Linked DNA regions of Homo sapiens. The protein of the gene in region 6 purifies or fractionates together with the protein of the main gene of each other region. This does not show direct contact. Each region holds a gene or a part of one and is shown on either strand. Other genes may lie near its edges.

Region 1 (3,500 bases), on a different chromosome or scaffold from region 6:
GTTCATGCCATTCTCCTGCCTCAGCCTCCCAAGTAGCTGGGACTACAGGCGCCCGCCACCACGCCCGGCTAGTTTTTGTATTTTTAATAGAGGTGGGGTTTCACTGTGTTAGCCAGGATGGTCTCAATCTCCTGACCTCGTGATCTGCCCGCCTCGGCCTCCCAAAGTGCTGGGATTATAGGCATGAGCCACCGTGCCCGGCCTATGGTTTTATTCTTAATAAATTTGGGTTTTCTTTTTCTTTTTTTTTCTTTTGTTTGTTCCAGACAGTGTTTTGCTGTGTTGCCCAGCCTGGAGTGCAGTGGTGTGATCACAGGTCACTGCAGCCTCAAACCCCTGGGCTCAAGTGATCCTCCCTCCTCAGCCTCTTAAAGTGTTGGGATTATAGGCATGAGCCACTGCGCCTGGCCCTGTTTTATCTTTATTATGTAATTTTGAGAAGTTTTGGATTAACTACTTGAAGACAAGTGTCAGTTGTTTGCTTTGTAATGGAAGACTGGGAGTTCTTCGTGTGTGGTCGTGTCAGCCCCTTTGATGGGTGTTTCTTGGGACATTTAAAACATAATATTCCTTCACATAGTTGTAAATGCACCTGCTTGTCACATTTGTCTTTTACCTTTTTACTAAACGTGAGATGAAGAGGGAAGGGGTGAAGGTGTTGCAGACATGGTGTGTTGCTGGAGGAGACTGGGTCTGCTGCTTGAGGCCTTGTGAGCTGCAGGGGCACCCCCATGGGCAGGTGTGGCAGGTGAGTGCACACTGAGTCCTGAAGGGGCTGGCCTTCCGGGCTCCTTGGGGGCCTACAAACCTGCCTGGAGGCGGGCTGTCCTTGGGCCTTTTGTATGAATTATGAACGAGGGCCTTAGGTGTTGAGTGTCCCTGCTGCTGCAGCAGAATGGGTGCAGGCTTTGATGTTTGCTAGGATTTGCTGGAAAACTGGTGGCCAAAGGCAGAATCTGGCTCAAGGTCATAATGTATGTATCCTGCTTTACTTAAAAAATTGAGTTGTTGGCAACAGTTAAAATTTGTGTTATTCTACCTACAAATCCTGAATTTTGCTTTTTATCTCTTGAGTGTTTTTGGTTGTTGGGTTGGTGTGTTTTTTTTTTTTTTCCCGTTTTCTTTTTAAGATACAGTCTCTCTGTTGCCCAGGCTGGAGCGCAGTGACGCGAACTCTGCTCAGTGCAACCTCTGCCTCCCAGGCTGAAGCGATCTTCCTGCCTCAGGCTCCCAAAGTGCCAGGATTACAGGATTTCTGCCACCTTGCTGGGCAGAAAGTTACTTTTGATATATTCTGGTTGCATATGTTTTTTGGTTTTTTTTGAAATGGAGTCTCACTCTTTTGCCCAGGCTGGAGTGCAGTGGTGCAGTCCTGGCTCACTGTAACCTCTGCCTCCTGGGTTCAAGCGATTTTCCTGCGTCAGCCTCCCGTGTAGCTGGGATTGCAGGCGCCTGCCACCAAACCCAGCTAATTTTTGTATTTTTAGTAGAGACAGGGTTTCACCATGTTGGTCAGGCTGGTCTTCAACTCCTGACCTCAAGCAATCCACCCACCTTGGCCTCCCAAAGTGCTGGGATTACAGGCGTGAGCCACTGCACCCGGCCCTCTGGTTGCACATACTTTTTTTTTTTCTTTAAGGCGAAGTCTCACTCTGTCATCCAGGCTGGAGTGCAGCGGCACGCCCTCTGCTTCCTGCAACCTCTGCCTCCCGATTTCAAGCGTTTCTCCTGCATCAGCCTCCCGAGTAGCTGGGATTACAAGTGGGCACCACCATGGCCGGCTAATTTTTGTATTTGTTTGGTTGAGATGGGGTTTCACCACATTGGCCAGGCTGGTCTCGAACTCCTGACCTCGTGATCCACCTGCCTCGGCCTCCCAAAGTGTGGGGATTACAGGCGTGAGCCACTGTGCCTGGCCTGCATAGACGTTTTAAAAGTAGTAAGCTGATAAATATATGTGGGAATCTCAGGATCCTATCAGAAAACCATTCCAAACTTAGCACATTTTGTGGTAAATTGTATTTGGAGACTGATGGGTCGTTAACATTAGAAGGCATGGTATAGACTCCTGATTAAACACTCATACTTTGCTGTTTCATCAGGTAGAGACTCTCTTAGTTTCTAACTCTGCTATTTGATGCATGCCTTCATTCAGGAAGATGATCTGATGAAAAGCATTTTGATTTTTGTTTTCAAAACCAGAAGGGCATATACCAGAAAATTAACAGTGGTGGTCAGAAAGGAATAGAGTTGTTGGTTTTTTCGTTGTTATGGTTTTTGGTATTTCCTACAATAAACACATTAGGTTACTTATATAACATTTTTTTTCATTTTAGAATTAACTATACCACTAATAAAACATGTATTTTGGACATCTTAAAGCAATCTATAAATAACAGGCCCATTACTGGTCCCCTTGACTTAGAGATGCACACGCACACTCACTGCACTTGCTGCATTTTGTGTCACCTCCTCGTGACCACAGTGGACAGGACACTTCACCCTCAAGCGTGGGGTGGTGTGGCAGATGTGAGGAGAGGTCTGCTTTCACAAAACTTGGTGAAACAATGGCAAGATGGCCAAGGTAAAGCATTCTGTTACTTATAACTGTTGCTGTGAGTAGTAACTTAACTGTTTAAAGCAGTATTTTAAAAACCAAAAGCTGGTAAAATGTAAGGATACTTTCTCTAGGAAAAGTATGTGCTCCTGCAGCCAGGATTCTTCATGGAATGAAGGCATGGCAGGGCCTGACTGATTTTCATCTCACATCGTCATCCTGAACTCCTCTGCACAGTTACAGCTTGACATCAGCAGAGACATACCTCCTCTTCCTGTCCATTGGCTCTAAAATGGTGGGCAAAGGTCAGGTACCAGTCAGCTTTTTCCACAGAATTCCTGACATTTTAATAAGCTAAACATGCAGTCATCAGGTATTAACCCCTATTGGATCTTGGACATCAGCTTTTTCCCCCTTTTTTTTGAGATAGGGTCTTGTTTTCTTGACCAGGCTGGAGTGCAGTGGCGCAATCATGGCTCATTCCAGCCTTGACCTCCTGGCCTCAAGTGACCCTCCTGCCTCAGCCTCCCTAGTACCTGGGACTACAGGCATGTGCCACCATACCTGGCTAACTTAAAAAAAAATTTGTAGAGACAGTGTTACACTGTGTTGTCAGGGCTGGTCTCAAACTCCTGTGCTCAAGTAATTCTCCCACCTCGGCCTCCCAAAGTGCTGGAATTATAGGTGTGAGCCATCCCACCTGGCTAAAATTTATTTTCTTTATACATGTATAGGTAAACTAAGTAGTATGTGTAGAATAGAGCCATTGTCTTTCTGCTGTACACTAAGTTAGGAATCAAATTTCTTAAGCCATTTTGTCAATTATGTATATAAAAACCATTGGTGCTTTAGAAGCAGATATTTCATTAACTTTTTTCTGATTATATCATTGTACATCATCAGTTCAGTCTAAAAAGGAGTTTTTTTCATATGTATTATAAAA
Region 2 (3,500 bases), on a different chromosome or scaffold from region 6:
GTGCAGAGAAAAAGCACTTATTTACCAACCATGAATCTAAACCATGAATGGATTATAAATTTCAATGTGCTGCATTCTTTCCAAAGACATTTTGGAGAGTTCCACAAACAAATAAATACACAGAGAACAGGAGAAATTTCATAGTAAAAGCAAACGATGTGAAAAATATTTAACTACTTAAAAAGGAACTGAAGGGAGTAAAAGTTGACAGGGATTTCATGTTGCTGTAGTTCGAAGGAACCCCCCAAAGTTCCTAAGCTGGAAACTTATTGCCACTCTAACAGTATTAAGCGGAGGGCCTTTAAGAGGTGAACAGGTCACAGGGCCAGCCCTCAGGGAGGCAGGAATGCTGTAGCACAGGGCTGGGTTCCTGATAAAGGATGAGTCTGGAACAGGTCACAGGGCCAACCCTCAGGGAGGCGGGAATGCTGTATCGCAGGGCTGGGTTCCTGATAAAGGATGAGTCTGGAACAGGTCACAGGGCCAGCCCGCAGGGAGGCAGGAATGCTGTAGCGCAGGGCTGGGTTCCCGATAAAGGATGAGTCTAGCTCCATTTCTCTGTCTTGAGCTTGCTTCTGCCTGCACCATGCTTCTGCCTGTGCCATGGGAGGACCAGCACCAGGTGCCGGCACCGTGCTCTTGGACTTCCCAGCCTCCAGAACCATGAGCCACATAAGCTTCTGTTCTTTATAAATTACTCAGTCTGTGGTTTTCTGTTACAGCAACAGAAAACAGACTAAGACACGCGTAAGTACCTGGGTGTGGGGTGAAGTACGTGTGTGGCCTGGGGGCACGGGAGGCCTCTGGCTCCGCTCCGTACAGTGGCGGAAGCTCTCCACAGAGCTGGCTCCAAGGCATCTTCTCCAGACAGCACCCTCTGCAGCTGCTCCTCCTCGTCTCACGGCCCTGCTTCCCAGAGTCCCCACACTGGTACTGTACCAACTGCGGGCTCAACAGATGTCTGGATTCTATTAAAATATTGTAAATAAAATATTTCATAAAACATTGTAAAAGTTTTATTCCATCAAAAATTACATTTTAAGCTTCTGAATAGTGTATGGTATCTGTTAGACCGAGGGGTTAATCACGTGCTGGGTGACACTGAAATGAATCCACAGTGACTTCTAACAGCAAGAGAGCTTGGAACTGGGAACTGGCGCCACTCGCCTGCGAGACTCAGGACAAGGCTGCAAGAATCCAGCCGCATGAAGTGGAGCAAAGTCAGACAAAATGATGCACAAAACAGAAGAGAGAGTCCAGACAGTCTCAATACAAAATTAGCTGGGTGTGGTGGTGGGCGCCTGTAGTCCCAGCTACTTGGGAGGCTGAGGCAGGAGAATCACTTGAACCCGGGAGGCAAAGGCTGCAGCAAGCCAAGATTGCGCCACTGCACTCCAGCCTGGGCGGCAGAGCAAAACTCCATCTCAAAATAAACAAAACAAAAAACAAAATAAACTGTGCCCTTCATAAACTGGACTGTAATGAAATTAAAACTTGTGCTCTTCAAAGCACTGTTCAGATAATGAAAAGGCCAGCCACAGAAGGGAGGAAATGGGCAGCCCTTGTGCCTGAGAAAGGGCCTGTGTCAAAACCACCAAGATCTCTTAGGACTCAATACTAAGAGAAGCAACCCCAGAACAAAGGTGGGCAGACCTGGAGAGAAAAGAAGAGACAGGCACGGCCAGTATCTCAACAGCAGCGGATGCAAATTAAAGCCATAAACACAGACCACAACCCCCTGACAGAGCAGCTAGGATTAAAGGACTCAGCTCCCAGTGCCGGCAAGGACATGGCTCGAGCACCGCTGCCACAGGGCAGACATCTTTGCACAGATGAACCTAAGATTTCAGCCCAAACTCAGGTCTCCACCTGTTGTTTCCACGAAAAGTTCTCAGAAACTCACAGCGGAGGTGGAATAAATGAAGCTAAAGCCCATCAGCACATCCCAGTGGAGGGCAGTGCCACCGGGCAACGGAGTCTCCGAGACACCCTTGCTGGGATCTACAGGTCTGCACGTGGCGGCCTGAGCTCAGGGTTTCCTGCAAGTTCGGTGACTATGCCCCCCTGCAGCTGCCGCAGATGTCAGCCCCACTTGCCACAGGACACTAGGCTTCTTGTCTGTTTTAGACAGTTTGCCTTTTCCTGTGATCTCAGAAGGATACAATTTAAACCATCATGCAGTATGACTATACTCAAATATGTTAACTTTCTCATTTATAACTCTGTAGTCCAAATGGCTGGCATTCGAAAGCACACAAAGACACATCATGAAGATCCTATCCTTCAAGGTAAGTTCCACAAAAAGAGCAACTGTGGACTCCAAGCCCAGTAACGACTATATATATCCCAGAGCCAGCGGACCCACTGGCCTCCTGGCAGATGAGCAGCGCACCTTGGGAACCACGAGAGTCGGCCTCACGCCCCTTCTGGCTGAAGCTCGTGCTCCCGGGAGGCCTGCCGAGGTCCCACTCGCACTCTGCAATGAGGTTCAGGACTGCCTCGTCATCCGCATCCATGACCAGGCTCTGCTTGGCCAAGGCCTCGGTGCACTTGGCTCTGGGGTGGTGTGGTCTGTAAGGAAAAGCAAACTCATCAGCATCACTCAAGCCAGCCATATGCTCCGGCCCACGCAGACCAGGAGAAGGAAAATTCCTGCACGGTCTCTGAGAGAAGCAGCGTGCTGCAAACGTGGGGCAGCCGGGTCCTGTTGCTTCCACTGCAGTGATGCTAAAGAGTGACTCACCAAGGACAATCGGTGAGCAACAGCCAGGTTACGTGATAACATGACAGCATCCCGGCACTGGACAGAACCCCACCAGGACTGGGCCAAATCCCAGCACTGGACAGAACCCCACCAGGACTGGGCCAAACCCCGGCACTGAACAGAACCCCACCAGGACTGGTCTAAATCCCGGCACTGGACAGCACCCCACCAGGACTGGGTCAAATCCAGCACTGGACAGAACCCCACCAGGACGGGACTAAATCCTGGCACTGGACAGAACCCCACCAGGACTGGGCCAAATCCCGGCACTGAACAGAACCCCACCAGGACTGGTCTAAATCCCGGAACTGGACAGCACCCCACCAGGACTGGGTCAAATCCAGCACTGGACAGAACCCCACCAGGACTGGTCTAAATCCCGGCACTGGACAGAACCCCACCAGGACTGGGCCAAATCCCGGCACTGGACAGAACCCCACCAGGACTGGTCTAAATCCCGGCACTGGACAGCACCCCACCAGGACTGGGTCAAATCCCGGCACTGGACAGAACCCCACCAGGACTGGTCTAAATCCCGGCACTGGACAGAACCCCACCAGGACTGGGCCAAATCCCGGCACTGGACAGAACCCCACCAGGACTGGTCTAAATCCCGGCACTGGACAGAACCCCACCAGAACTGGTCCAAATCCCGGCACTGGACAGAACCCCACCAGAACTGGTCCAAATCCCGGCACTGGACAGAACCCCACCAGGACTGGTCCAAATCCCGGCG
Region 3 (3,500 bases), on a different chromosome or scaffold from region 6:
TCCACCTCCCGGACACAAGTGATCCTCTTACCTCAGCATCCTGAGTAGCATGGATTACAGGTGCTCACCACCCTGCCCAGCTAATTTTTAATTTTTTTTTTCTTTTGAGACAGACTTTTGCTCTTTTTGCCCAGGCTGGAGTGCATTTGTGAGATCTCGGCTCACTGCAGCCTCTGCCTCCCGGGTTCAAGGGATTCTCCTGCCTCTGCCTCCCAAGAAGCTGGGATTACAGGCATGCACCACCATGCCCGGCTAATTTTGTATTTTTAGTAGCGACGGGGTTTCGCCATGTTGGTCAGGCTGGTCTTGAACTCTTGACCTCAGGTGATCCTCCTGCCTCAGCCTCCCGAAGTGCTGGGATTACAGGTGTGAGCCACCACACCCAGCCTACTAATTTTTAATTTTTTTGTAGGGACAGGGGTCTCACTAGGTTGCTGGTCCTTAACTCCTGGGCTGAAGCGATCCTCCCACCTCGGCCTCCCAAAGTGCTGGGATTACGGGTGTGGGCCGCTGCACCTGACCCTGCTCCCGCTTTCCTTACATTGTTTTGTAGCAGCTGACAATAGTTCATCAGATGATGCACCAGAACTTCACCCAGTGCTCCTCTGGATTTTCCTTATCATAGTACCAAGAGTGGCACAGCAAATACCCTGTGTCTTTGCCATTTTGCATACATGTAAATACGCCTGTAGAATAAATCCTAAAGGATAACTACTGGGTCAGAGCATAAGTCCATTTAAAATTTTGAAAGGGGGGCCAGGTGCGGTGGCCCGTGCCTGTAATCCCAGCACTTTGGGACGCCGAGGTGGGCAGATTGCTTGAGGTCAGGAGTTCGAGACCAGCCTGGCCAACACGGTGAAACCTCGTCTCTACTAAAAATAGAAAAAATAGCTGGACGTGGTGGCAGGCACCTGTAATGCCAGCTACACAGGAAGCTAAGGCAGGAGAACTGATTTAACCCGGAAGCTGGAGGTTGCAGTGAGCCAAGATCGCACCACCACACTCTAGCCTGGGTGACAGCGAGACTCCATTTCAAAAAAAATTAAATAAATAAAAAAATTTGAAAGGGGGCCGGGAGTGGTGGCCAATATCTGTAATCCCAGCACTTTGCGTGGCTGCGGTGGGAGGATCACTTGAGGCCAGGAGTTTGAGACCAGCCTGGGCAACATAGTGAGACCCCTGTCTCTACAAAAAAATTAAAAAATTAGCCGAGTGTGGTGGTGCATGCCTGTAGTCCCAGCTACATGGGAGGCTGGGGCAGGAGGATGGCTTGAACCCAGAAAGTTTGAGGCTGCAGTGAGCTATGATCATGCCACTGCTCTCCAGCCTGGGCAACAGAGTGAGACTCTATCTTTTAAAATTAAAATTAAAACTAAATTGTAAATTTTTGGCCAGGCGCGGTGGCTCATGCCTGTAATCCCAGCACTTTGGGAGGTTGAGGCAAGCAGATCACGAGGCCAGGAGATTGAGACCATCCTGGCTAACACGGTGAAACCCCATCTCTACTAAAAATACAAAAAAAAAAATTAGCCGGGCGTGGTGGCAGGCACCTGTAGTCGCGGCTACTCGGGAGGCTGAGGCAGGAGAATGGCGTGAACCCAGGAGGCGGAACTTGCAGTGAGCCGAGATCGCGCCACTGCACTCCACCCTGGGCGACAGAGCGAGATTCCGTCTCAAAAAAAATTTTTTTTTTTGATAGGCATTGCCAAGTTGCTGTCCGTAAAGATCATTGCCCTAAGTCACACTCGCATCACAGGGTGCCACGGGGCCTGCTCCCTCGTGCTCTGGTTGGCACACGTGCAGCACAGTTTTGGCCTTTACAGGATCCATATGTAACAAAAGATATCTGACTGTACTACCTTTTAGTTTACTTTTTACTTTTTATTTTATTTTTTTCTTTTTCTTTTTTGAGATGAAGTTTCACTCCTGTCACCTAGGCTGGAGTGCAATGGTGTGATTTCACCTCACCGCAATCTCTGTCTCCTGGGTTCAAGTGATTCTCCTGCCTCAGCCTCCCGAGTAGCTGGGATTACAGGCGCCTGCCACCATGCCGGGCTAAGTTTTGTATTTTTAGTAGAGACAGGATTTCACCATGTTGGCCAGGCTGGTCTCAAACTACTGACCTCAAGTGAATCCGCCCGCCTTGGCCTCCCAAAGTGCTGGGCTTACAGGCGTGAGCCTCCGGCGTGACTGTACGATTTTTAAAAATAAACCTTTTATGTTAGTATAGTTTTAAATTTATAGAAAAATTGGAAAGTGCAGGGTGTTCCCCTGTACCGCACCCAGTCTCTGCTATTTGAATATCTTACATTATGATGGGACGTGTACAATTAACAAGTCATTATTGGTAAATCACTGACTAAAGTCCACACTTGATTTGTATTTTTGCAGTTTTTCTTTTCTGTCCCAGGATCCCACATGATTTTTGGGCTGTGGGTCTCAGGCTTGTTTGGGCTGTGAGTTTCTCAGACTCTCCTTGTTTTTGATGACCTTCGAGTTTTGGGGAGAGCTGGTCAGGGATTTTACAGAATGGCCCCCTGTTGGCCCTTGCCTGATATTTTTCTCGTGATCAGACTGGGTGGTGGATGGGTTCTAGGAGGAAGGCCACAGAGGTAAAGTACTCTTCTCACCCCATCCTGTCTGGGGTCCACACTGTCCATGTGACCTCTCACTGGTGATGCTGCTGGCCTTGGTCCCCTGGCCAAGGTGGAGGGTCAGGCTTCTCCACTGTGAGGTCGCCCATCCCCTGTGCTCTCTGGAAGGAAGTCGCTTTGTTCAGCCCACATGGAAGGGGTGGGGAGTTTTGCTCCCCCTCCTTTAGAGAAGAGCATCTATAGAAGTTATTTGGAATTCTTCTACACAGGAGATTTGTCTGTTCACCCTCATTTATAATTTTTTTTTTTTTTTGAGACAGTGTCTCACGCTGTCGCCCAGGCTGCAGTGCAGTGGCATAATCTTGGCTCACTGCAATCTCCGCCTCCCGGGTTCAAGCGATTTTCCTATCTCAGCCTCCTGAGTAGCTAGAACTACAGGCGTGTGCCACCACACCTGACTAATTTTTGTATTTCAGTAGAGATGGGGTTTCACCATGTTGGCCAGGCTGGTCTCGAACTCCTGACCTCAAGTGATCCTCCTGCCTTGGCTTCCCAAAGTGCTGGGATTACAGGCATGAGCCACTGCACCTGGCCCCACTTATTAATTTTTTCAATCATTTATTATAATGGACTCGTGGATATTTATTTTACACTTCAAGTTATAATTCAATGCTAGTTTGCTTATTTTGTTGCTCTCATTGTCACAGCTTTGGCCACTGGGAACTTTCAGGTGGCTCCTGGGTCCCTGTGTCATTGCCCATCACTTTGTCTTCTGAGCACGTCCTTATTTCTGGCCCTATAAACTGCTCCAGCCTCATCTTGTCTATTTCCTCCTCCAGTCCTAGAATCAGCCATTTCTTCAAGAAGCCCCGGTTCTTTTTCTTGGAGAGTGGTCTCAGAGACCAA
Region 4 (3,500 bases), on a different chromosome or scaffold from region 6:
CGCCGAGCTAATTTTTTTGTATTTTTAGTAGAGATGGTGTTTCACCACGTTGGCCAGGTTGGTCTTGAACTCCTGACCTCAAATGATCTGCCTACCTCGGCCTTCCAAAGTGCTGGCATTATAGGCATGAGCCACCGCGCCTGGCCATGAGGCTGTTTAAAGTAAAACTTTGAAAAGTGAAACTTTTGATTCATTATATGTATACACATACACGTATAACACACATCTATTCTTTTTATTTAAAAAAATAAAAAATAAAGATAAATGTAAAAAATCAACCTTTGGGAGCACAGAACATGGAAAATATATATAGGTGTCCTGGTCAAAAGTTCAAGAGGTTCCTAAACTTTCTCAGTTCACAGACCCCTCAGTATGCCAGTTATTTTTTTCATGGAACCCCTAGGCCAAAAAAATACCTAACAGTTCCATTTACTAAGTAGTTCAGTCCACAACCTAAAAAGTATTTATAGCCTACCAACTTAGTAGCAGATCGAAAAATAAATATGTATAAATTGAAATAAATATTTTTATTACTAAATTACCACAACTACTTAATAGGATGTGTGTACCTACTAGATATTACACAAGTTCTCAAATCTTGAAATCATTTTGGACACCACCACCTTCATTTACTGTTCCAAATTGATTTTTGCATAGTACTTGCTTTTTATCACAGCAAACTCCCAAAACCTAGCGTTTGGAAGACACAGTGTCATCAAAAAAAATGGAACACAATCTCTTGTGTGGTATCTCAAACTGGTAGTTTGAGTAGTGTCCTATAGATGTCAAATATCCCACAGCTATCCAATATTGCTGTTTCCATTAAAATTTCTCAAATAATGCATAGTGTCCAGGTGAGTTACTATGGTGCTCCACAGTACGGCAGGTCCTCCATAACATAGTTTCATTCAATATCATTTCTTCACAATTTTGATGAGAAAAAAATTTTGATTTCCCCACCAGGGCTACCATCTATGTGGAGCCTGCATGTTCTCCCCATGTCTGTGTGGCTTTTCTCCGTATGCTCCAGTTTCCTCCCACATCAGAGAGGTGCACGCATTAGGTGAACTGACATGAATTGGCATGTCTATATGGTCCCAGTCTGAGTGAATGTGGGTGGGTGGGTGGGTGTGTGTGTGTCTGTAAATGCTACCTGCAATGGAATGGCAGCCTATCTTGTGCCCTACTTGCCGGGACAGGCTCCAGCCACCTGCCATCCTGAACTGAAATAAGTGGGTAATTATCTTGTTTTTAGTATTTCTTAAATGTATGCATAGGACCCATTTATTTCAATGTTTAATATTAGAGGTGTTTGGGGTCTTAGAAGTTGCAGTTTCCAAGTACTTATGGACAACATTAAGTGAGGATTTACTTCAGTGCACAGTTTAGGAATACTGGATTTAAGAAACACTGATCTAGCCTACGGGTTTACTTTGTAAAGTAAGAAATAAGACTTAAGGCTACAAAGCTAGGAGAAAAACAAATATATTTATTATAGATTTTCCTAAATTTCAACCTTCTGCCAACAAAAGTTTTTTTGTTTGTTTGTCTGTTTTGAGCCAGAGTCTTCCTCTGTCACCTAGGCTGGAGTGCAGTGGTGCAATCTTGGCTCACTGCAACCTCTGCCACTCAGGTTCAAGCAATTCTCCTGCCTCAGCTTCCCCAGCAGCTGGGATTATAGGAGCCTGCCACCATGCCCAGCTAGTTTTTTACTTTTAGTAGAGATGGGGTTTCCTTATGTTGGCCAGGCTGGTCTGAAGCTCCTAATCTCAGGTGATCTGCCCGCCTCAGCCTCCCAAAGTGCTGGGATTATAGGCATGAGACACCGCACCCAGCCAACAAAAGTTTTGTTTGTTTTGAGATGGAGTCTTGCTCTGTTGCCCAGGCTGGAGTGCAGTGGCAGTCTTGGCTCACTGCAACCTCCACCTCCCTGGTTCAAGCAATTCTCCTGCCTTGGCCTCCCCAGTAGCTGGGATTACAGGCCTGCCACCACGCCTTGCTAGTTTTCGTATTTTTAGTAGAGATGGGTTTCGCCTTGTTGGCCAGGCCGGTCTCGAACTCCTGACCTCAAGTGACCCACTTGCCTCGGCCTCTCTAAGAGCTGGGATTACAGGCGTGAGCCACCAAGTCCCAGCCCTTCCATCAACAAATGTTTTGACACAGGATCTAATTATGAGACACTCTGTTGATGAAATGTGTAGATCTCTAAAAATCACATTCAAAAATACATTTATATCACTATTTAATAGAAGAAAAAATTTACTTCCTTTTTTTAGAAAAAAGTTTCAAAAATTATAAAAGTGATTCTTACAATAAAACCATACAAAAATGTCTAAAGTAAAAAAGAAAAGTCATCCACTCCCTCAGGAATAACATGTTTAATGTCTATCCTTATAGACCTTTTTCTATTCACATGCAAAATGAAAACAAAACTACATTTGTCTATGTGTTTTTTAAATAAATCATATTCTATAGTATAGTGCAACTTATTTTTTCACTTAATTTTATATCATGAACATTCTTCCAAGTCAATACATAATTGTAACAGCAAACACTTATGTGGCGCTTATTAATGCTTATTTAGGGCCTAACTGTTAACTCATTTAATTCTCATGGTACCCCTGTAACATGAGAACTACTAGTATATCCAATTTATAGTTGACTTTAAGTAATTCGCCAAGAGTCACAGCTAGAAAGTAGTGCAGTTAGGTTTTGAATCCAGAAGGTCCACCGCATGGTTCCAGGAGCTGAAGGATATGCTCAGCTGCTGCTCATGAAGTAAATATAGATACCCTGAAACCTGTTAACAACTGCACAGTAATTCACAGCATAAAAATACTAGACTTTTAACTATTAGCCTACCAACAGACATTTAGGACATTTTTAAATTATTTATAAATGTTATTGACATCTTGAAATAATGCTAATATAAACATTCTTATACAATTCCTATGCTGTTAAAATTTATGTAACATAAATTTTAAGCAGGAAATGATTCTATCAAACAATATATATACTTTTAATCTTGATAGGGAATGCCAAATTTCCTTCCAGAAGGTTGCTCCAATGGTATCAATTTATAGTCCCAACTACAGAGGAAAGGGTTCAGATTCATTTTTAAGTTAACACTTTGGATTCATGAAAAAAAAGGCCCATTTTGAGTTTTTAATTAATACTGAATAGACTGCCAAGTTGATCACAATTATGTTCTGATTTTATAATTATCTGACATATTAAACAAATGTAGACTTAGCAGCTGTGCAATGGATTCTTCTCCCAGTTATGAAATCAACTATGCATGAGATATCGCCCCTATACAACCTTCTGTTTTCTTATGTATAAAATATGGGAATTGGACTAGCTGGCCTTGAAGAATTTAAACTCCCAATACTGAGATTAAGAAGTGACTTAAAGTTATTACAAGGCTATAATTATAGTACTAGTATAACAGGTTAGGGTCTTAAAGTTTATATTTTCTTTAAATTACCGTAACCTGTTGC
Region 5 (3,500 bases), on a different chromosome or scaffold from region 6:
CTCATACATTGCTGGTGAGAATGTAAAATAGTGTAGACATTTTGGAAAACAGTTTGGAATAAATTCACCATATGACCCAAGAATTCTACTCCTAGGTATCTACCCAAGAGAAATGAAAACATGTCCAAAGACTTGTATGCAAACGTTCATAGCAGCATTATTCATAATATCCCAAAGTGGAAACAATCCAAATGTCCATCAGCCAGTGAATGGATAAACAAAATATAACATATCTATATAATGAAATACTATTTAGCAATAAAAAGAAATGAAATACTGATATCACAACATGAACGACTCTAAGAATGCAAAAGACCAGGTGCAAAAGAGCACATATTATACGAGTTCATTTATGTGAAATGTCCAGAAAAGACAAATCTACAGATGCAAAAACTATTAGTGTCTTCCTAGGGGTAGAAGTGAGTACAGGGACTAATTATAAATGGGTCCAAAATACCTTTTGGGGATGACAGACATGTTTCAAAGCTGGATCATGGTGATTGTTACAAAACTTATAAATTTACTAAAAATCATAGATTAGTACACTTAAAACAGGCAAATTTTATGGTATATAAATGATACTTCAACAAAGCTGTTTAAAAAAAATTCTGTGCCATTCTTATATATGGCATCTGAGAAACTGGGGAAAAGTGTAGAATGGTAAGTGCAGGAAAAAAAATAGAGATTTAGACAGAAGAGAAATTCATGACTAAAAGTATAGAGAAAAAGAAATTAGAAGCTAATAAAGCAACCACAAAATGATAGTCTTTTCTAAAACACTTTAGTAAAATTCTTCTTTTCCATTACGTAATCACACATACTTACTGGCAACTGGGATATAATCTTTTCCAAACTTCTTAGTTCTACCCTTGAACTTTCAATTTCTTGTTGACATAAATCTAGTCGCTCATTCTGTGCTGCAACACGGACCTTTAATTCTCGGTTTTCATTCATTAAAGAAAATTTGTCTCTAAGTATTTCGTCTTTGTTCTCTAACTCACTCTCTAGCTTCAAAATACTTTGTCTAGATTCAGTTAGTTGTGCCATGACTTCTGAATTTTTCACTGCCATGATCCTTAATTTTTCTTTTCCGTTGTTATTTTCTTCTTTTAACTGCCTATGAAGAAAAGAGAATAAAAATGAAAATAAAATATATATGCATTCATTTTAATCATATTTATTTAATCTCACTTTTAAAATTTTTTGAAGCTTAATTCTAAAATAATACCTGCTCACATTTACTAAATACCTACTTTCTGCATGCCAGGCACTCACAACTTTATATGGTTGGCACTATTATTACTTCTTATTTACAGATGAGGTAACTGAGGCACAAAAAGGTTATATAACTTTCCTAGTGTCTCACAGTAAATGGTAGGGAAGGACAGCCCTACTGTCTTAAAAGCATTTCTGCTCCCTGTTTAATTATATAAGACAGGAAATCTAACTTCAAAATCCCTGACATAGCATTTCACATTATCAACAAAGTTTTGGATTCCTAAAACAGGAGAAAAAGTAAACTGGCTCTACATAATTGTACAACCAGCTTAAGAGCCCAGCATCAATGACTTTCTGTTCTTACAAGGATTCTTTTAAGAAATACTGCATCAACAAGTCTTAATGGCACACTGGGAGATACTGTGAGGAAAAACTTAGACATTTTAGAGGGTTAGACTCCAAATGTGAAGTTTTAAAAATATCTTAACCAATTTATTTCACTTATATTTGAAATATGAGAATAACTTTTTTGAAAAATATGAAAATAACGACTTAAGAAATCATATCTAATTACAAATACAAGAATTCTTTCATGAAGTATAAAAATTTTAAGTGATAAAGGATTGCATCATAGTGTAATTGGCAGCATCTTTCTTTCTTAAAAGTATATCTTGCAATCGATAACCGATTCTAAAAAATACTCTAGTAAAAAGTATCTTTACTTCCTCCTCCTTGGCAAAAATACTAAACAGACTACCTTAAGGAAAGTATGGCAAAATTAGACAAATCAGTCATTGATTGCTTCCTGCTCCCCCTTTTTTTTAAATTAACAGTTTGAAGTGATAAAGACTGGTTAATATTAACCTCTGAAAGTTGATGGGTGTTAGTTTTGAGAGGACAACATGATGTACTAAAAGAGAGCATTGGAGTCAGAAGACTTCGATCTTTCAGACCTTCAGTAAATTCTGGCTACTCTCGGGGCTTCTGTTTACTTATAAAATGAGAAGTCTGGACTAGGTAATTTTTTATGATTTGAAAAACACTTTTTTTTAGAACATCGGATATTATACACATTTTACTAGTGAGTTAATGTGGTTATACATCAAGGACATTATATCTATTAATTTTCTCTAAATATATGCAAAGCAAATATGTTGATCAGTATGTCTCCGTATTTACAAATATTATTAGCATTAACACATTTTACTTCACTTCTAATTCTAACTCTATAGCTAGAAAACAGTTTCAGTCATGAAGCCTATCCTTCTATATAATGTAAGCCTATAATTACAACAATAAAATATTGTGTTTTAAAGTGTTTCAGTTTTTTCCATGTCCACACAAAAATCCTTTTTCTACAACAGAATACTGTACCTTAATTTCTCTTTCAGAATTTCAAGTTCACTTTTATATAGACCACACCTTTCTTGTAGCCTTTTATTTTCTTTTTCACAGTTAGTTAGATTTCTCTCTAATATTTCTTCTTCAGCTTGAACCTAAAACAATAATTTAAGTGGACATACTAATGTGGTTGTAAGTTTTAGGTGTTTCAAGCTAAAAATGTCAGTAGTGATTTCAGAAATAAGCAGGAGAGTAGACTAAGAATTTCATACATTTAAGTCCCCAGCCTTGTAGTGAAAAGAAGCAAAGTGAAGTTCCTGGGCAGTAGCAAAGGACAGAGAAAAAGACACTACTACCTGTCCAGAAAACCTGTAACAGATAGGCAATTGCATCAACTGAAGTCAAAAATTCATCTACAGCTGCTGCGTCCGAGTTACTAAAGGTTAATTTCAGTGCAAATATTCCAGAGAAGTTACTTTTGAAATTTGAACCACAAAATTTACCAACGAAACCACAGCCCAAAATGTAGAACAGAAAAAAGCACCCAAGATACACTGTTGAGAGGAGAAGATTGGGTAGATCTGCCCCAATTCCTTTGTTACCCTGTTACATCCACCTAACTATAGGGCTTTGCTGAGCATTGTTTGCAATTGATAATCCTAAGTGTAAAAAAACAAAACCTGTCTCTTACATTCTTCTCTCCTTCTCCATAAAGTCCTTCTTCTCCCCAAGCATATTCCTCCTACTAGGTCTTCTACCTCCCCTTACTGATCACCTTATTAAAAATCCCTTCTAAGATATTTCATTCCCACAAGGACCCTCTTTAGCTCTCAAAACAGCGTTCTGATTAACTAATTCACACTTAAGATTTCAGTACCCTAAAACTTAAAGTATAATAATAATAAAATTTAAAAAAAAAAGATTTCAGTACCTAGTGAGAC
Region 6 (3,500 bases):
ATGTTAAACCAGCCTTGCATACCTAAAGTAACTCCTATTTGGTCATGTGGTATAATTTTTCAAATACATCATTGGATTCAATTTGCTAATATTCTTGGAGAGGAAGTTTGTTTGTTTGGTTGGTTGGTTGTTTTTTTTTTTTTTTCTTTGAGACAGGATCTCGCTCTTTTCCCCGGTCTGGAGTGCAGTGGTGCAATCATGGCTCACTGCAGTGAGAGGAAGATCTGAGAATTACCTCCCCTCCTTTCACTTGACTGGCCCATCAAACTCTTTCTTTGCTGCAAAACTCGCTGTTTTTAGTGCATTGGTTTTCTGAACAGCAGGCAAGATGAACCCGTCAGGCTGTTACTTGCTTCCAGCTGTCTCTTCTTCCTCTTCCCTCTCCTTCCCTCTCTCCCACCTCCTCACTCTACACCTTCTCCTCATGCTGCTTTGTTCATACTCTAGGTCTCAACTACCTGAGGCTCCAGCTCAGACTTCCCTTCTGAACCCCAGACCCACCCAGCATCTCAGCCAGCCAGCTGCCCACCCAGCATCTCAAAGTCCACCACCTTGTCTGCAGCGTGGAAAACTGCTCCTCTGTCAGGGCCTGCTGTCTCCCCAGTCACTCAAACCCAAACCGCCTAGGTTTCTCCCCTCTCCTTCTCTGCATAGTTGCCTTCAGTCCCTTCCATTTGGCAGCAATTCCTCTTCCCCCTCCTCCATCTCCACTGCTACAGTTTTGATTTAGGCCCACATGGCTTCCCAGAGACCCCCTCCTAGCTAGGCCCTTTGCCTCCAGCTCTGCAGAAGGCAAAGCTGATCCTGTGTGCACCCTCTGAACATCTCCAGCGCCTCAGGATAAAGTCCAGGCTCCTTAGCTGGGCAGATCAGACCCTTCTTCTGGTGCCTCCCCAAATGTGCCCTGCCCTCTGGCCATTCTGAACCTTTCATAGTTCCCCACACTCATCACATTCTCTGCACATGCTGTTCTGGCAGGAGAGCCCGTTGCCCCCCACTCAGGCACCGTCCCTTCCCCACCCAGGTGAATTTCTTCTGCATTCAGCTTCAAATTGACTGAGATGCCTGTCTCTCCTGCAGCTTCTCTCTCCCCAGACAGCCTCTCAGAGTGCTTAACACCTCTCATTCTCAAACCAGCTGAACGTTAGGCTCACCTGGGAAGCTTTAAAAATACAAAAATGTTAGCTGGGCGTAGTGGTGCATGCCTGTAGTCCCAGCTACTCGGGAGGCTGAGGCAGGAGAATCGCTTGAACCCAGGAGATGGAGGTTGCTGTGAGCCGAGATCGTGCCATTGCACTCCAGCCTGGGCAACGAGAGTGAAACTCCATCTCAAAAAAATAAAAATAAAAATAGACACCCTGGCCACAGCCCAGATAATTAATTTCAAATCTCCACTGGCCTCATGAATAGCACAGATTAGATACTAATACTCTGGGGGCCGGTCTGGACCACAGGTGTCCTCTCAGTGCAGGCATTACTGTCTATCCCAGAGGCTCCGTTGGGCCAAGAGCACCACTTTTCATACAGTGATAATGATAATTATTTCCATGCATTCTTCCACTTAATCTCACAAACTCCCTGTGAAGTTCGTAAGTATCAGAGTCCCATTTTACAAATGGGAAACGAAAGCAAAGAGGTTAAGTAATTTGCCTGGGGCACAGTGTACATTCAATGAGTACCAGTTCCTCAGTGACTTCAAGTGCAAATTGGGAGTAGAAAAGGAGAAAAGCTTTACAAGTTACTGTGTTCATTCATTCAGTGACAATTCTACAAATGACAGTTGAAGGCCTGTTCTGGGCAAGATGTTGAGATTTAGCAAATGAATAAGGTATTAGGACCCCTGCCCTTAAGAGGTCTCTTTGTAAAGGGAAGTAATGTAAATAAAATAATAGATAATTATAATACACTGAGGTTAAGTTTAGTGATCAAGGGGTGCCCTAGGGATTCTGGGAGTCCACAGAGTGCCCTGAGGGGAATCCTAGAGGCTAACTGGGAGTTAGTGGGAAGGTAAAGGGCTGGGATGGGGAGGCCTGGGAGGAAGGCCTCCCAGGTAGAGGAGTGGCTGAAGCCAGCCTCTGAGATGCCACTGGGCTTAATCCACAGCAGGAGCCACAAACCCAAAACATCTGCTGTGGCTGATGGGAAATAAAAGTGAATCCAGCAGGTTTAAGAGAAAGAACAACATTTATGTGCAGTGATAATGGGCAGCTGATGTGCCAGCTGCAGCATCTGGAGGTGGCAGGGACAGTGGTTTAATGGAAAGAACCTATTATGCACCAAAGGAACTCTCTGCATAGCAGCTGCTGTCCGTGTGGGACGATGGGCCCAGCATTGCCAGATCTGTAAACTTTTATAAAAGAAGCTGGTGTAAACTAAACATAAAATTCAGAGGCCCCCCATCCATCTGAATGGACTTCCTTCTCAGCCAGGGCACTCCAAAGTTAACCTGAAAGACCAGTTCAGGCCTTGATGGGAAGCAAGGGTTGGACACGCCTCATTATACCCTCCTCCCTTTTGGAATTCAGGAAAAGTTGACCAACATTTAACATCAACACAGACCTTAAGTCTGATAAGAAACATTTACAATCTATTCTCTCTGAAGCCTGCTACCTGGAGGCTTCATTTGCATGATCAAAACTTTTATCTCTTTTATTCTAACCCAGATATTCCTTTCTATTTATAGTAACTCTTTTAACCAATTACCAATCAGAAAAATTTTAAATCTACTTATCACCTGGAAGCTCCCCCCTCCCAACCTTGGAGTTGTCCTGCTTTTCTGGACCAAATCGGTATATATCTTAAATGTATTTGATTGATGTCTCAGGTCTGCCTGAAATGTATAAAACCAAGCTGTGCCCTGACCACCTTGGGCACGTGGTCTCAGGATCTCCTGAGGGCTGTGTCACAGGCCATGATCACTCACATTTGGCTCAGAATAAATCTCTTCAGACTGGGTGCAGTGGCTCACACCTGTGATCCCAGCACTTTGGGAGGCTGAGGTGGGTGGATCACTTGAGATCAGGAGTTCAAGACCAGCCTGGCCAACATGGTGAAACCATGTCTCTACAAAAACATACAAAAATTATCTGGGTGTGGTGGTGCATGCCTGTAGTCCCAGCAACTCAGAAGGCTGAGGCAGGAGAATTGCTTGAGCCCAGGAGGCAGAGGTTGCAGTGAGCCAAGATTGTGCCACTGCGCTCCAGCCTGGGTGACAGAGCGAGACTTCATCTAAAAAAAAAAAAAAAAAAAAGTACATCTCTTCAAATATTTTACAGAGTTTGACTGTTTTTGTTGACACTGGAAATCTGATATTGAAACTACAATTCTTTGAATGTTGGCAACAAATTCAAATCCTAACATAGTGTTCTGTAAGAGCCAAACAAAAATGTCTGTGGGATGTGTTAAACTAACTGTAGCCTAAAGCTGCCTTCTTATATATTCTAAGTTCAGCCTAAAGGTTTCTCTGTACGTAGTAAACTGTAACCTGACTAGGAATTTAA

What was found.
Region 1: the proteins of CCDC13 (region 6) and PCNT purify together in Homo sapiens (co-immunoprecipitation; one study listed by IntAct). This does not show direct contact.
Region 2: the proteins of CCDC13 (region 6) and CEP72 purify together in Homo sapiens (co-immunoprecipitation; one study listed by IntAct). This does not show direct contact.
Region 3: the proteins of CCDC13 (region 6) and CEP131 purify together in Homo sapiens (co-immunoprecipitation; one study listed by IntAct). This does not show direct contact.
Region 4: the proteins of CCDC13 (region 6) and CEP350 purify together in Homo sapiens (co-immunoprecipitation; one study listed by IntAct). This does not show direct contact.
Region 5: the proteins of CCDC13 (region 6) and CCDC18 purify together in Homo sapiens (co-immunoprecipitation; one study listed by IntAct). This does not show direct contact.

What each region holds. Positions count from the first base shown.
Region 1 is NC_000021.9:46,327,156-46,330,655, forward strand, and holds part of PCNT (pericentrin), read left to right. Parts: intron 1-3,500. UniProt on the Homo sapiens protein: Integral component of the filamentous matrix of the centrosome involved in the initial establishment of organized microtubule arrays in both mitosis and meiosis. Plays a role, together with DISC1, in the microtubule network formation.
Region 2 is NC_000005.10:632,840-636,339, reverse strand, and holds part of CEP72 (centrosomal protein of 72 kDa), read right to left. Parts: intron 2,572-3,500; coding exon 2,393-2,571; intron 969-2,392; coding exon 756-968; intron 1-755. UniProt on the Homo sapiens protein: Involved in the recruitment of key centrosomal proteins to the centrosome.
Region 3 is NC_000017.11:81,212,966-81,216,465, reverse strand, and holds part of CEP131 (centrosomal protein of 131 kDa), read left to right. Parts: intron 1-3,500. UniProt on the Homo sapiens protein: Component of centriolar satellites contributing to the building of a complex and dynamic network required to regulate cilia/flagellum formation.
Region 4 is NC_000001.11:179,957,810-179,961,309, reverse strand, and holds part of CEP350 (centrosome-associated protein 350), read right to left. Parts: intron 1-3,500. UniProt on the Homo sapiens protein: Plays an essential role in centriole growth by stabilizing a procentriolar seed composed of at least, SASS6 and CPAP. Required for anchoring microtubules to the centrosomes and for the integrity of the microtubule network.
Region 5 is NC_000001.11:93,204,724-93,208,223, reverse strand, and holds part of CCDC18 (coiled-coil domain-containing protein 18), read right to left. Parts: intron 2,715-3,500; coding exon 2,593-2,714; intron 1,118-2,592; coding exon 826-1,117; intron 1-825.
Region 6 is NC_000003.12:42,763,254-42,766,753, reverse strand, and holds part of CCDC13 (coiled-coil domain-containing protein 13), read left to right. Parts: intron 1-3,500. UniProt on the Homo sapiens protein: Required for primary cilia formation and promotes the localization of the ciliopathy protein BBS4 to both centriolar satellites and cilia.